2 separate regions of the Homo sapiens genome follow, and region 2 is linked to region 1. The links come from fine-mapping of genetic effects on gene expression. Tissue or cell type: whole blood. Region 1 holds a variant in brackets; the other region holds the start of a gene. All regions are shown on one strand. Distances are between the middles of the regions.

Evidence for each region. PIP is the estimated chance that this variant, and not a neighbour inherited with it, causes the effect.
Region 2: it holds the start of SEC14L1, and the variant in region 1 is fine-mapped to the expression of SEC14L1 in whole blood (TOPMed, PIP above 0.99).

The regions. Positions count from the first base shown.
Region 1 is chr17:77,188,462-77,195,716 of GRCh38, forward strand. It overlaps SEC14L1 (SEC14 like lipid binding 1), which reads left to right. Exons shown (of 17, transcript NM_001143998.2): 4 at 2,342-2,491; 5 at 2,720-2,851; 6 at 4,960-5,088; 7 at 6,216-6,450. Among named protein-coding and RNA genes, the nearest start is that of SEC14L1, 51 kb to the left of the region's middle. The variant G/C (reference allele first, on the strand shown) is at 4,077.
Region 2 is chr17:77,136,676-77,143,930 of GRCh38, forward strand. It overlaps SEC14L1 (SEC14 like lipid binding 1), which reads left to right and starts at 4,294. Exons shown (of 17, transcript NM_001143998.2): 1 at 4,294-4,432; 2 at 5,971-6,075; 3 at 6,892-6,984. The coding sequence starts at 6,922. LOC105371901 (a long non-coding RNA gene) reads right to left here and starts at 4,764. Exons shown (of 5, transcript XR_934988.3): 1 at 4,681-4,764; 2 at 1-69. RefSeq lists silencers at 3,578-3,787, 3,938-4,147, 4,158-4,607, 4,772-5,066.

The DNA of each region.
Region 1 (7,255 bases):
CTCACCTGGATCAATAGTTCATTCTTTTTTTTTGCTGAGTAGTGTTCCGTGGTGTGGCTGCAGCGCAGTCCATTTAGCCTCACTCAGGAAGGACATCTCGGAGTTGTTTCCAGTTTCTATTATGAGTAACGCTGCTATGAATGTTTGTATATGGGGTTTTGTGCGAACATAAGCTCTCATTGCTCTGGGATAAATGCCCAGGAGTGCATTTGTTGGGTTGTATACCGTTGCATGTTTAGGTTTTAAGAAGATACCTGTTTTCTGGAGTGGTTGCACCATTTTACATTCCTGCCAATGATGTGGAAGGGATTCAGTTCTTCCACATCCCAACCAGCACTGTGTTTTATTTTAGCCATTCTGATAGTTGTATAGTGATACTCCTTTGTGATTTTAATTTGCATTTCCCTAATGGCCCTTTTCTCTAATGAACATCTCTCGTGTGCTTATTTGCCATCTGTGTGTCCTCTCAGGTGAGATATCACTTCCTGTCTCTTGCACATTTTCTAATTGGACTTTTTAAAACTCTTGAGTTGTTTTTTTTTTTTAATCATGGTAAAAGCACATGAAATTTACCATCTTAACCATTTTTAAATTTCAATTGTGTGTCAAAAGACAAAATTACAAAAAAATTTAGTGTATGGATCTTAATTGGCTTTTTTGATTCCAGAATCAGGCAACACCTCATTCTATAAAACAGAATTCTGTGAAATAGAATGAGTGTTCTCATGAGCTGAGCAGGGGAAGCTGGCTTTGTAGACAGAAAAGGGGTGAGGGAAACAGACACAGAGAACAGAGAGCAGATGGGTGGTTTCAGAGTGACTTCCCTTGTAAAGGTTAACGCAGAGGGGACTTCCTTACCACGCTGGCCCAAACTGGCCCATTTGGGGGATTTGCTGTTCTCTTTCTCCTGACTTCTTGCAAAGTCAGATAAACAACTTACTTTTGGCTTGGTGGTATGGAGGTTACCAAGAGGGACTCCATTTTGGTTTGGTCTGCTGGGCCTGGTGCAGGAGCTCAGTCCAAACCAGTGTTCTCCTGGCTCACTGTATTTATGTTGAGTTTTAAGAATTTTTTATGTATTCTAGGCACTAGTCCTTTGTCAGATACATGGTTTGTAAATCCCTCCTCCCATTTTGTAGTTTGTTTTTTCATTCTCTTAACAGGGGTTTTGTTTTGTTTTGTTTTGAGATGGAATCTCACTCTGTCGCCCAGGCTGGAGTGCAGTGGCGCGATCTCGGCTCACTGCAAGCTCCGCTTTCTGGGTTCACGCCATTCTCCTGCCTCAGCCTCCTGAGTAGCTGGAACTACAGGCGCCCGCCACCACGCCCGGCTAATTTTTTGTATCTTTAGTAGAGACGGGGTTTCACCGTGTTAGCCTGGATGGTCTCAATCTCCTGACCTCATGATCTGCCCACCTCAGACTCCCAAAGTGCTGAGATTACAAGCGTGAGCCACCGCGCCCGGCCTTAACAGGGTCTTTCGCTGAGCAAATGTTTTTAACTTTGAGGAAGTTCATTTTATATATTTTTTCTCCTGTGGATTGTGATTTTGTTGTCACATCTAAGAATTCTTTGCCTAGCCCAGGATCCCAAAGATTTTCTATTTTTTTTCCCTAAAAGTTTTAGTTTTGTGTTTTACATTTAAGTCGCTGATCTTTGAGTTAATTTTTATACAAGGTGTGAGGTTTAGATCAAGATTCATTGTTATTATTGTTTCAGCCTATGGATGTGTAATTGCTCCAGTAACATGTTGAAAAGACTGGCGTGCTTTCTTTCCCTCATTGCTTTTACATCTCTGTTGAAAATCAGTCGGTGTTCCCTGACAGGTGCAGATACTAAAAAATAAATCAGTTGGGTGTATTTGTTTGAGTCTATTTCTGGGTTCTGTATTTTGTCCCATAGATCTGTATGTCAGTTACCCCTCTCCTAATACTAGATGGTCTTGATTACTGTAGTTATAGAGTAAGCCTTAATACCGGGGTGACTGATTCTTCCCAGTTTATTCATCTTTTTCAAAATCGTTTTAGTTGTTCTAGTTCCTTTGTCTTTCCATATAAATTTTAAAACAATCTTGTCTATAATTACCACAAAGTCTTGCTGGGGTTTTGTTAGGAATGATGTTACTTATGGGGAGAATTGAGATCTTTACTAGGTTGAATCTTCCGATCCATGGACATGGAGTGTCTTTTTCTTCTTTAATGAAAGCTTCAGATGTGAAGACAGTTGTGGCGCTGCCTGTTGCCGTGCACCGAGAGGTGCTGTTCCAGGGAGAACACAGTCAGCGGCAGGACATCAGGTTGTGTCTTTGCTCACTTCTGCTTTCTTGGTTTTTAAATTTATAGGCCTATGAAAGGAGGTTCCCTACATGTCCTTTGATTCCGATGTTCGTGGGCAGTGACACTGTGAATGAATTCAAGAGCGAAGATGGGGCTATTCATGTCATTGAAAGGCGCTGCAAGCTGGATGTAGATGCACCCAGACTGCTGAAGAAGGTAAAGGTCGGAAAGGACGTCTTGGAGGGAAAGGGCGTCCTGGTGGGAGAGGGCGTCCTGGTGGGAGAGGGCGTCCTGGAGGGAGAGGGCATCCTGGAGGGAGAGGGCGTCCTGGAGGGAGAGGGCGTCCTGGAGGGCAGCCCCCAGAGACAACATGAACTTATACTATAGCTTCTGTGCTATTGGTTGTTATTAATAAACCCATTTCTCTTTCTTTTTTTTTTGAAGATTGCAGGAGTTGATTATGTTTATTTTGTCCAGAAAAACTCACTGAATTCTCGGGAACGTACTTTGCACATTGAGGCTTATAATGAAACGTTTTCCAATCGGGTCATCATTAATGAGCATTGCTGCTACACCGTGAGTAATCTGTCACTCGGCGGAAGATGTTCTGCCGACATATGGCTTCTGAGGATTGTTTGATCACCATTTTAAACAGTGCATCTTTTTGTCTTAGAGGGCAGTTCTTCATTAGATGTTGTCACTCATTTCTCATGTGTAGGAGGAAGGGTAGCAGGTGTGGTCTCCTGCAGAGTGTATTATGTTGTCGTGGCAGTTAAGGCAGCCAAGTGATGCCTTGATTTGGTTTTGTTTTTTTTTTCTTTTTTGAGACACAGTCTCCCTCTGTCGCCCAGGCCGGAGTGCAGTGGTGCAATCTCGGCTCACTGCAACCTCTGCTTCCCGAGTTCAAGTGATTCTCCTGCCTCAGCCTCCCTAGTAGTTCGGATTACAGGCAAGCGCCACCACGCCAGGCTGATTTTTGTATTTTTAGTAAAGATGGGGTTTCACCGTGTTGGCCTGGCTGGTCTGGAACTCCTGACCTCACGTGATCCACCCCTTGGCCTAATTTTTTTTTTTTTTGAGATGGAGTCTCACTCTTGTCACCAAGGCTGAAATGCAGTGGCACAGTCTCAGCTCACTGCAACCTCTGCCTCCCAGGTTCAAGTTATTCTCATTCCCCAGCCTCCCAAGTAGCTGGGATTACAGGCACTCGCCACCACGCCCGGCTAATTTTTGTATTTTTAGTAGAGACAGGGTTTCACCATGTTGGCCAGGCTGGTCTCCAACTCCTGACCTCATGATCCGTCTGCCTCGTCCTCCCAAAATGCTGGGATTACAGGCGTGAGCCACCACGCCTGGCCTTAAATATTACATTCATATGCCACTTCTTTTCTGGTCTTACTGTAATATGTTAGAAATATCTAATGAAGGACTAAGATGTGTGCCTTTAAGAATAGTGCCGAGAGTGTTTGTCTGTCTCAGTATCTTCACTGCTTACCACCCTGTTTCAAGAACTTCTTTTATCAGATTTTTAGAATACTCTCCTGACAGATTGCTGTATTTCTGCCCTTCTCCCCTGCAGTGTATCCTTAACACTGAATTCAAAGTGATCTATTTAAAGTATGTCAGATTAAGTCACTTCTATGGGCTCAAAACCCTGGAGTGTTTCCACAGTTCGCCCAGAGGAAGAGCCCATAGTCTTTATGGTGACTTGCAAGGGCCTGAGTTCTCTCCTGGTTACGCCTTTCCTGTCCTTGCTGTCATGCAGTGGGCCTCCCCCAGGGGCTTTGGCTCCAAGGTGCTC[G/C]CTGTGCCGTGCTATTCTTCCCTACGTCTCTAGTCTCACCTCCTCCCATCTCGGCTCAGGTCACCCCTTCTTGGCCAGCCCCAGCCACCCATTTAATTCTGCAGCCTGACTCCCCAACCCCCAGGCTTTTTTTTTTTTCTTCAGGGATGGGATCTTGCCCTGTCGCTCAGGCTGGAGTGCAGTGGAACAATCAGTTCACTGCAGCCTCCACCTCCCAGGCTCAAGTGATCCTCCTGCCCCAGCCTCCCAAGTAGCTGGGACTATAGGCACATGCCACCGTGCCTGGCTAGTTTTTAAATTTTTTTGTAGGGATGAGGTCTTGCTCTGTTGCCCAGGCTGGTCTCAAACTCCTGGACTCAAGTGATCCTCCCACCTTGGCCTCCCAAAGTGTCGGGATTGCAGGTGTGAACCATCATGCCTGACCCCCATCCCTGGTTCTTTTAGCCTGTGCTCCAAGTTTTCTTTTTTCCATAGCACTTACTTATCTTTAATTTCCTTGCATACTGTGTTTCTGGCTGATTGTCTCCTCTGTTAGACTCTGTTGAAAGCTTCCAAGGCCAATACCTCTTTGTTCATGATGGAGAAGACTGTTCAGTGAGTATGTTGAATGAATGAATGAAGCAAGAATGAAAATGAAGCTCTCCTTTTATAGTCATCTTTGAAATGTTTTTGAACAATTATTTGGATCTCTTCATGATTTAGAATGTGCTTTTGATCCTGATTTTGAACATGATTTTGGCATTTTTTCCATCTGCTGTCTTTATGGTAGTAGCATTGTTAGTAACGTAAGTGTTTTTTTCTGGTTACTGGTTAAACTGAGGAGCAGGCAGATGATATTCTGTTGTCAATTCAGTCAGTGAGAGTGCTTTCTCTTTATCTGCAGGTTCACCCTGAAAATGAAGATTGGACCTGTTTTGAACAGTCTGCAAGTTTAGATATTAAATCTTTCTTTGGTTTTGAAAGTACAGTGGAAAAAATTGCAATGAAACAATATACCAGCAACATTAAAAAAGTGAGTGTATCTTGGGATTTTGTGGCAGAGGGTGGGCAGGAGTCTCTGAGATGACCATCTTTTTGGAAGGCTGGGGATGGCTTAGCAAGGGATTTGCAGCATTTCTTGGGTGGAAGATGCTATGATCCCTACCCCCTGCCTCATCTTTAGGTATAGGGGTTGAGGTTGTGCTGGTTGCTGATGGAGGAAGGAGGTGCCTGTAGCTCTAGCAATGGCACTGTCTGCCTGGAGTTGCTGAGAGAGTTAGAAGTTGGGGAGAGGCAGCAGCAGCTGGCACACAGCCCCCAGGCCTTGCTGCAGGATTGGGAGGAGGCCTGGGGGCCTGGGGAGGTGCTTGCCGAGCAGGCTGCCCCCCTTGGATTGTCAGTTCTTCCACAGAAGACCTTCCTTTCTCGTTTTTGTGCTGTTGTTCATCAGTTGTTAGGGAATTGTGGTTTTGAAATCTATCCGTGTGGGATTATGGAGTGGTTTTTGAAGGCTCATTTTCAGGGTACTGTGTTGGAAAGAATTGAAATTGAGACAGAAATCATATATTGAGTACAAGTACCCTAAATCAGCATTTTAAAATAGTCATATAAAAATTCCATCTCATTAGATACCATTTCCTAAACCTTGGAAAATAACAAGTAAAATAAACAAAAACACAGAAGCATTTGGCCTTTTCTTTTTTTCTATTAATTTTGTAGCAATTCAGTTTTATTGGTGTTTTAAAAGCTTGTGAGGGACTGGGCGCACTGGCTCATGCCTGTAATCCCAGCACTTTGGGAGGCTGAGGTGGACAGATTGCTCGAGCCCAAGAGTTCGAGACCAGCCTGGACAACATTGCGAAACCCCGTATTTACAAAGAATACAAAAATTAGCCGGATGAGGTGGCATATACCTGTAGTCCCAGCTACTGGGGAGGCTGAGGTAGGATGGCTTGAGTCCAGGAGGTCAAGGGTACAGTGAGCTGTGATCATGCCACTGTGCTTTAGCCTGGGCCACAAAGCGAGACCCTGTCTCAAAAAAAAAAAAAGATTGTGAGGCTCACCATCTTCCGTTGGCTAGAAAAAAAGAAAAATCTTGGGAGAGATGAGTAATTTGAATGTTGAATATATACTCACCTTTAAATTGGTTTTGTTTTAAAGGGAAAGGAAATCATCGAATACTACCTTCGCCAATTAGAAGAAGAAGGCATAACCTTTGTGCCCCGTTGGAGTCCGCCTTCCATCACGACCTCTTCAGAGACATCTTCATCATCCTCCAAGAAACAAGCAGCGTCCATGGCCGTCGTCATCCCAGAAGCTGCCCTCAAGGAGGGGCTGAGTGGTGATGCCCTCAGCAGCCCCAGCGCACCTGAGCCCGTGGTGGGCACCCCTGACGGTGGGTCTGGCAGGGGCTTCATCCCGAGAGCAAGGCTAGGGAAGTCGGCGTTGCCGTTTTCTCTCTGTTTGCTCTGCCTGTTCCCGCTTCCTTGGAACATTAGATAACTCAGAAAGGAAAGACCCGTCTCTCGTTTCTGGCCCTTGTCCTCTCGCTTATGTAATACATTCATTTTACCTTTTATTAGATTTTTTGTTAATAGGAAGGATTATATCAAGTTATTTTTATTCTTTTATGGATACCAGAAGGTGTTTGTTTGTTTGTTTAAGAAATGGGGTCTCACTGTGTTGCCCAGGATGGTCTTGAACTCCTGGGCTCAAGCAATCCTTCTGCCTCGGCCTCCCAAAGTGCTGGGATTATAGGTGTGAGCCACCACACCTGGCCTAAGGAAGGTGTTTTTTTTTGTTTGTTTGTTTGTTTGTTTTGAGATAGAGTATTGCTCTGTTGCCCAGGCTGGAGTGCAGTGGTGCCATCTTGGCTCACTGCAACCTCCGTCTCCCGGGTTCAAGTGATTTTCCTGCCTCAGCCTCCCGAGTAGCTGGGACCACAGGCATGTGCCACCACGCCTGACTAATTTTTTTATTTTTTTATTTTTGAGATAAAAAAGTCTCTGTCGCCCAGGCTGCAGTGTAGTGGCACAATCTCGGCTCAGTGCAGCCTTCGTCTCCTGGGTTCAAGTGATTCTCCTGCCTAAGCCTCTTGAGTAGCTGGGATTATAAGCCTGCACCGCCACGCCTGACTAATTTTTATATTCCTAGTAGAGACGGGGTTTCACCATGTTGGCCAGGCTTGTCTTGAACTCCTG
Region 2 (7,255 bases), 52 kb before region 1:
ATCATTTCCAAGGAAGCGTCGTTCGGGGAGCAGGTTTGCTCTTCTTCACCCTTTCCTCCGACTTGCTGGCTGGAGGGGGAAGACACACTGTGGTAATGGCAAAGTAGCAACACAGAAGGGGCCCGTGTTAGGCCATTCTCGAATTGCTATAAAGAAATACTTGAGACTGGGTAATTTATAAAGAAAAAAAGTTTAATTGGCATTCTTAAGAGAAAGCAATAATTTCTTTTTCTTTCTTTTTTTTTTTTTTTGAGACAGAGTTTCGCTCTTGTTGCCCAGGCTGGAGTGCAATGGTGCGGTCTCGGCTCACCGCAACCTCTGCCTCCCAGGTTCAAGCAATTCTCCTGCCTCAGCCTCCAGAGTAGCTGGGATTATAGGCATGTGCCACCATGCCTGGTTAATTTTGTATTTTTAGTAGAGACGGGGTTTCTCCATATTGGTCAGGTTGGTCTTAAACTCCCAACCTCAGGGGATCCACCTGCCTTGGCCTCCCAAAGTGCTGGGATTACAAGCGTGAGCCACCACGCTCAGCCACAAGAAAGCAGTAATTTCTTAGTATCATTATATGTTCAAATAGTGCTTAAGAGGTTCCACAGGCTGTTCAGGAAGCATGGCGCTGGCATCTGCTTAGCTTCTGGTGAAGCCTCAGGGAGCTTTTAGTCTTGGTGGAAGGAGAGAAGGGGGAACAGGCAGGTCACATGGTGAAAGCAGGCAGAAGCTCCAGAGAGTAGGGGGAGGTGCCACCCATTTTTAAGTGAGAAGATCTCATGTGAACTTAGAGAGAGCTCACTTATGGCCAAGGGGATGGCCCAAGCCATTCATGAGGGATCTGATGACCCAAACGCCTCCCACCAGGCCAGACCTCCAACACTGTGGATTACAATTCAACATGAGATTTGAGTTCAGACTATCTCAGGGCCTACATTCCTGATCATGAGGAATAAGACCACCTGCATCCACACAGCTTAGCCATCAGGACTGAGACCTAAGATCTCTGTGTCAACATGACTTACTATTTGATCCAGGAGATTCTTGTTCAGGAATATTAGACTGTAAACCAATACGTGCTTTCACTGTTTGCCTCAACAAATTCCTGAAAAAGCATTTATTGTAACAAAAGATTGCTTATCTTTACATATAACCCCCTTCTCTGGATAACAGTATAACCACCCAAGGGGTTCACCTTCCCTGCTGCCTAGAGAGAGCTGATTCATCAGGACAGGAGGATTGCAATAGAGTCATTCACACAGAGCTGGCTGTGCAGGAGATTGGAGTTTTATTATTACTCAAATCAGTCTCCCTGAACATTCAGGGAGCAGAGTTTTTAAAGACAACTTGGTGGGTCGGGGGAGGCCAGTGAGCCAGGAGTGCTGATTGGTCAGGGAGGAAATCATAGGGAGTCGGAGCTGTCTTCTTGTGCTGAGTCAGTTCCTGGGCGGGGGCCACAAGATCAGATGAGCCTGTTTGTTGATCTGGGTGGTGCCAGCTGAGCCATCAAGGGGAGGATCTGCAAAATGTCTCAAGCACTGATCTTAGGAGCAGTTTAGGGAGGGTCAGAATCTTGTAGCCTCCAGCTGCATGACTCCTAAACCATAATTTCTAATTTGTGGCTAATGTTAGTCCTACAAAGGCAATCTAGTCCCCAGGCAAGTAGGAGGTTGGTGGGCAGGGTGCTGTGGTTCACTCCTGTAATACCACCACTCTGGGAGGCTGAGGCAGGCAGATCACAAGGTCAGGAGTTTGAGACCGGCCTGACCAACATGGTGAAAGCCCGTCTCTACTAAAAATAAAAAAATTAGCTGGGCACTCGCCTGTAATCCCAGCTACTCGGGAGGCTGAGGCAGGAGGGCAGGAGAATCACTTGAACCCAGGAGGTGGAGGTTGCAGTGAGCCAAGATCGTGCCACTGCACTCCAGCCTGGGCAACAGAGTAAGACTCCATCTCAAAACAAACAAACAAACAAAAAAACAAAAAAAACCTAAGGAAAAAAATAGCAAAAAGTAGCCAGGCGTGGTGGCACATGCCTGTAGTCACAGCTACTCAGAAGGCTGAGGTGGGAGGTTCACTTGAGGCCAGGTGATGATGCTGCAGACGGCTATGATTATGCCACTGCCCTCAAGCCTGGGGAACAGAGTGAGACTGTTTCAAGAAAAAAAAAATGGAAATAAAGTTTTTTGTGATTGGTTGATGTCTCAAGTCTGTTTTTTCTTCAAAATGTTTAACTGAAGTATAATATACATATAAAAGCTTGCAAATCATAAATGAATGTATGGCTCAACAAATTTCCCAATCTCTTTTAATCTATAGATTGACCATTCCCCTCTTTTTTTCCTTTGGAATTTGATAAAGAATATATTTGTCTTGTACCGTTTCCCACAGTCTGTACTTTGCCAATTGTTTTTCATGGTGTCATTTAGCATGTTCCTCTATTCTGTATTTCCTGTAAACTGGTGGTTGCATCTAGAAGTTCAGCAGGTCAGGTGAATTTTTTTTTTTTTTTTTTTTTTTGACACGGAGTCTTGCTGGAGTCCAGCCCAGGCTGGAGTGCAGGGCAGGTGGCGTGATCTTGCCTCACTGCAACCTCTGCCCAGGTTCAAGTGATTCTCCTGCCTCAGCCTCCCAAGTAGCTGGGATTACAGGCATCTGGCACCACACCCGGCTACTTTTTGTATTTTTAGTGGAGACGAGGTCTCACCGTGTTGACCAGGATGGTCTCAAACTCCTGACCTCAGGTGATCCACCCACCTAGGTCTCCCAGACTGTTGGGATTACAGGCGTGAGCCACCGCAACGGCGTTAAAGCGTCTTTTGAAGGTGGATGTGATTTTTTTTTTTTTTTTTGGGACGGAGTCTCGCTCTGTCGACCAGGCTGGGGTGCAGTGGCGCGATCTCGGCTCACTGCAAGCTCTGCCTCCAGGGTTCACGCCATTCTCCTGCCTCAGACTCCCAAGTAGCTGGGACTACAGGCGCCCGCCACCACGCCCGGCTAATCTGTTGTATTTTTAGTAGAGACAGGGATTTCACCGTGTTAGCCAGGATGGTCTCGATCTCCTGACCTCGTGATCCGCCCACCTCGGCCTCCCAAAGTGCTGAGATTACAGGCGTGAGCCACCGCGCCCGGCCGGTGGATGTGATTTCTACAAACAAGCAAAAGCCAGTCAGACTGAATGTAGTGAATAATGTAGGTGACCCAGCTGGAAGATGATGGTTTGACGTGGAACACAAGGGGTGATGAGGCCATGAATGATTTGCTTGTGTGTCTGGTAAACTGGCTTTGATGGAAATTCCTAAACAGGTCCAAAAACGTTCTGTCCAATGGCAGCATGAAATGTACAGCCACTCAGGGTGACTAATGTGAACGGAACAACAGTGACTTTGACAGTGAAATTGCATGTTGGTTATAAAACCAGCTTTGCTGTGTGGGTGGGCATGCGAGGTGCCCCTTTCTAGTCATGAGCTCCTCTTAAGGACCCCAAAATGTCTCAGTGGTACCGGATTGAAAATTGGGGCTGGACGGTGCTCTCCTGCTGAAATTCGGGAGCTACTTAGCAGCCCCACCTTGGCACCCTCGTTTCCGAGGGGCAGGCCCTGGGCGCGCGTCTCAGTTTCAAGCCCGCGGCCCGACACTAGAGCCGTCTGGATGTGTTGACAAGGATGCCGCTGGGCTCCACCCGGGCTCACCCGGGCCCTCCCGAGCCCTGGGCCGCGCAGCACCGGCGTCCGCCTCCTCCCCATTACTCGGCGAGAATGCGGTCGGGGCACTGGCGCGAGCAGCCTGGTGCTCCTGAACAGTCAACAAGAAATGAGGAAGCACGGGGGCAGCCGCCAGGGCGACCAGAGGCAGGCCTCAGAGCAGCAGCCATACGGGAGGGCCCCGGTGGTTTTGACCTCCCGCAAACTTCCCTTTTCCCGCTCAGCCGAACCCCTCCCCTGCACGCCGGCAGCCCCTTGGGGCTTCACTCCGCCTCCGCCCGCTACTCGCGAAGCCCAGCCCGGCCCCGCCCCCAACAAGTGACGCAAAACTGGGAGGGGCCACGAGGACCTCGGGCACATCCAGCAGTGCGACGGGGCCGGCGCCTTCTCCGAGCTCCTCCCACGCTCGCGGGTCGGAGCTCGCGCCTGCGCAGTTCGGGCCCCGGGTGTCCTCCCCCCTCCCCTTTCTTAGCAACCATCGCCCGCTCCCGCCCCCGCTCCCTCGGCCGCGGCCGCGCACGCGCGCCCCTCCCGGCGCCCGGCCCCGCCCACCCCGTCACCCGTAACAACCACAAGTGCCGTCGCCGCGCCCCTTCCCCCTCCCGCCTCCCCGGCCCCCTCCCCGGAACCGGCGGTCGAGCTACGGTCGCGGAGCAGTGGAACCGAGACTGCCCCGCGGAGCCGCCGGTATGAGCGCCCCTCGCCACCCCGTGTCCCAGGCCCGGCCTTTCTGACAAGAGGTAGGCGCGTCGTCGCGGCGGGTCCGAGTGCGCCCTCGCCCCGGTCCCGGTCTCCGTGGAGTCCGGCGCCTCTCGGGCGGGCCCCCCGGAACTCCCGGCCGCCCGCTTGCTGAGCCTGTCCCTCCCCAGCCCCGGCTGCCATCGGCCCGGCACCCGAAACGGGCCGTGCCCCCGCCCCCCTGCTCGCCCTCCGCCCCCCTGCTCGCCCCTCGCCGCCCCTCGCCCCCCTCCCCCGCCCCCACCCCCACCTCGCCAGGCTTCCAGTTCCCGGGAGCCGCTTTTTGCTGAGAGCGGAGTTTCGGGTCCGGAGCCAGTGCCCGCCCCTCTCTCCCGTCGGTCGGGGCTTTGGCCCCGTGGGGCTCAGCCGCGCGGGACCCCTGCTGAGCAGCCCCGGGCGCCGGCCGCCCCTCGAGCCTGCTCGGGATGCGTTCAGTGGGTCTGGCCTTTGGCTCCTGTTTAAACAGCGATTGTCATGCAATGGAGGCCGTCCGGCTCCTGGATGCCACTTGGTCGTTGTCACTCCGGATGCCCGCGTAGGGCGTTTATCTGGACCAGAGCATCGGCAGCTGAGACCTGGCTGTGGTTCACAAGCTCGTGAATTAGCAGGTTCTTAAGTGAGTGTAGCCAGTTCTGCCAGGCGGTGGAATCCTGAATGGATGTTACCGTTTCTTAAACGAGCATTACGCTTTTTTGCTTCTTCCCCCAACTCTTGTTTGTACCCGGTTATCGTCCTCATATCTGGGAGAGTACCCTAAAATTAATATTCCCAATTAAATTTTTAAAAGATGATTGGATTCCCACTGTGCACCAACACTGTAAGGTTTGCAAAAGAAAAAGAACGTGGTCCCAGCACATCAGGATGTGTCAGTCGCATAATCAAGATGAATATTAGAAAAGCTTCAAGTTGAGTTTGGAGAACTTGGGAGTTTGGCTCTCATTCTCATGGTTTTAGAGGTGGAAGTCTTTCAAGATCATCTCCCCGAAAACCTCATTTTACAGAGATGAAACTGAGTCCTAGGGAAGTCAAATGGCTTACTCGTGGTCACCCAGAGTCATTCCTTAGCCGTTTTCACACTGTCAGATGGCGATGTTTTCCACCATGACCTCTCCTCTGAGAGGTATGCCAGACATACCAGAGAAAGTTCCAAACCTGTTTAAACCTTAGTACTATAGATGGGAATTCTATACCAGGCGCCGTGACTCATGACTATAATCCTAGCACTTTGGGAGGCTGAAGTGGGCAGATCCCTTGAGCCCAGGAGTTTGAGACCAGCCTGGGCAACATGGGGAAACCTTCTACAAAAAATATATATGGTGGTGCGTGCCTGTGGTCCCAGCTACTTGGGAGGCTGAGGCAGGAGGATCACTTGAGCTTAGAAGGTGGAGGCTGCAGTGAGTGGAGATTGTGCCACTGTGTTCCACCTTGGGCAACAGAGAGACACCCTGTCTCAAAAAAAAAAAAAAAAAAAAAGGAATCTTGGAAGTTTCTGAAATAAAATACATCTTGGTAATTTGTCTCTCTCTTTTTTTTTTAACAGCTAGACTTCGGGCTCCTTGAGGATATTCAGTTTTGTATGTTTGAATATCCTCTCACCATGTTCAGCATAAAGTACCATTCTTAATGATTATCCTCAACAAGACAGGTAGGCTCATTCGATTTTTCTTTCTCACTTTAAATAGGGGAGACAGAGGACTGGCAAGTCCAGGTGTGTTTTTAGAGCAATCCGTGTAGGCTGGCGCTAGAGAATGATTATGCACCCATAAGGAGGGCTCCTTGACTGTGAATTAGGTGTGAACATTTAACCGATTACTTACGGATATTAGCTATCTGAGGCTAGAGATTTCAGTGGAGCCTGTTTAGCCAGAATACTTGGCATCTCTGCCACTCGAAGACAGGTCGCCAAAGCTGTAGTGTACACAGTTAGAAAATAGGAATTGACACGTTTCCTTTGAAGCTAGCTTTTGAGGAGTATTCCATAGTTTGAGATACAGTAGTATTTTTTTCCAGTTTTATTTTTGTTTTCCCAGAGCTAATATCTTAACACGAGATCATTTTTATTTGGCTTCTAGTAGAAGTTGTTTAAGAGAAAATGATCCAAGCATTAATTATATTGGTTATTAGAATAATAGAATCATAACAGTTCATTGCTGGAAAGGACTCAGGTCAGGTCATGTAATGAATGCAGAGTCCCAGTAAGCCAATGAGAGGATTGGACCCCTCTCACACCAGTACTGTTTGCCTCATTGCATTGGGGCTTTGTCTGCTTTTTCTTATTGTTTAATTACCTCCCCCTGCCCTCATGTATTTAAATATCATCTTTTCATTTTTGTGTGCATAGAATTATGACCTATTGTGGTCTCTTTCTGTCGTTAGAGTGTGGTATGATGTGTCAGTGCAGACTTACTAATAATTTGTTTCTGCATTGTGGTTACTTATCACATATATTTATGTTTTGCAGGTGTGAGAGGGTTGCTGTTGTATTGCAATCATGGTGCAGAAATACCAGTCCCCAGTGAGGGTGTACAAATACCCCTTTGAATTAATTATGGCTGTAAGTACTTGACATTTCAATTTACTCTTTGGCTTCTTATTTATAAAGTACAGTGTTAGAATTTGATGATCTATAGATTTATTGTTCGTCTCCATGGCATCACTTGAACTTACTCTGTTTTTATGCTTATGAACCGTATCTAGAGTGTGTAAAATGTTTTTAAAATACAAGCCTCTGAAAATAAAAATCTGCTTATTAAAAAAAATGCACCTCAGGGTAATGTATGAATTGAAGTTAATTCTCCCTTTGAACACACAGAAGTGGGATTCTA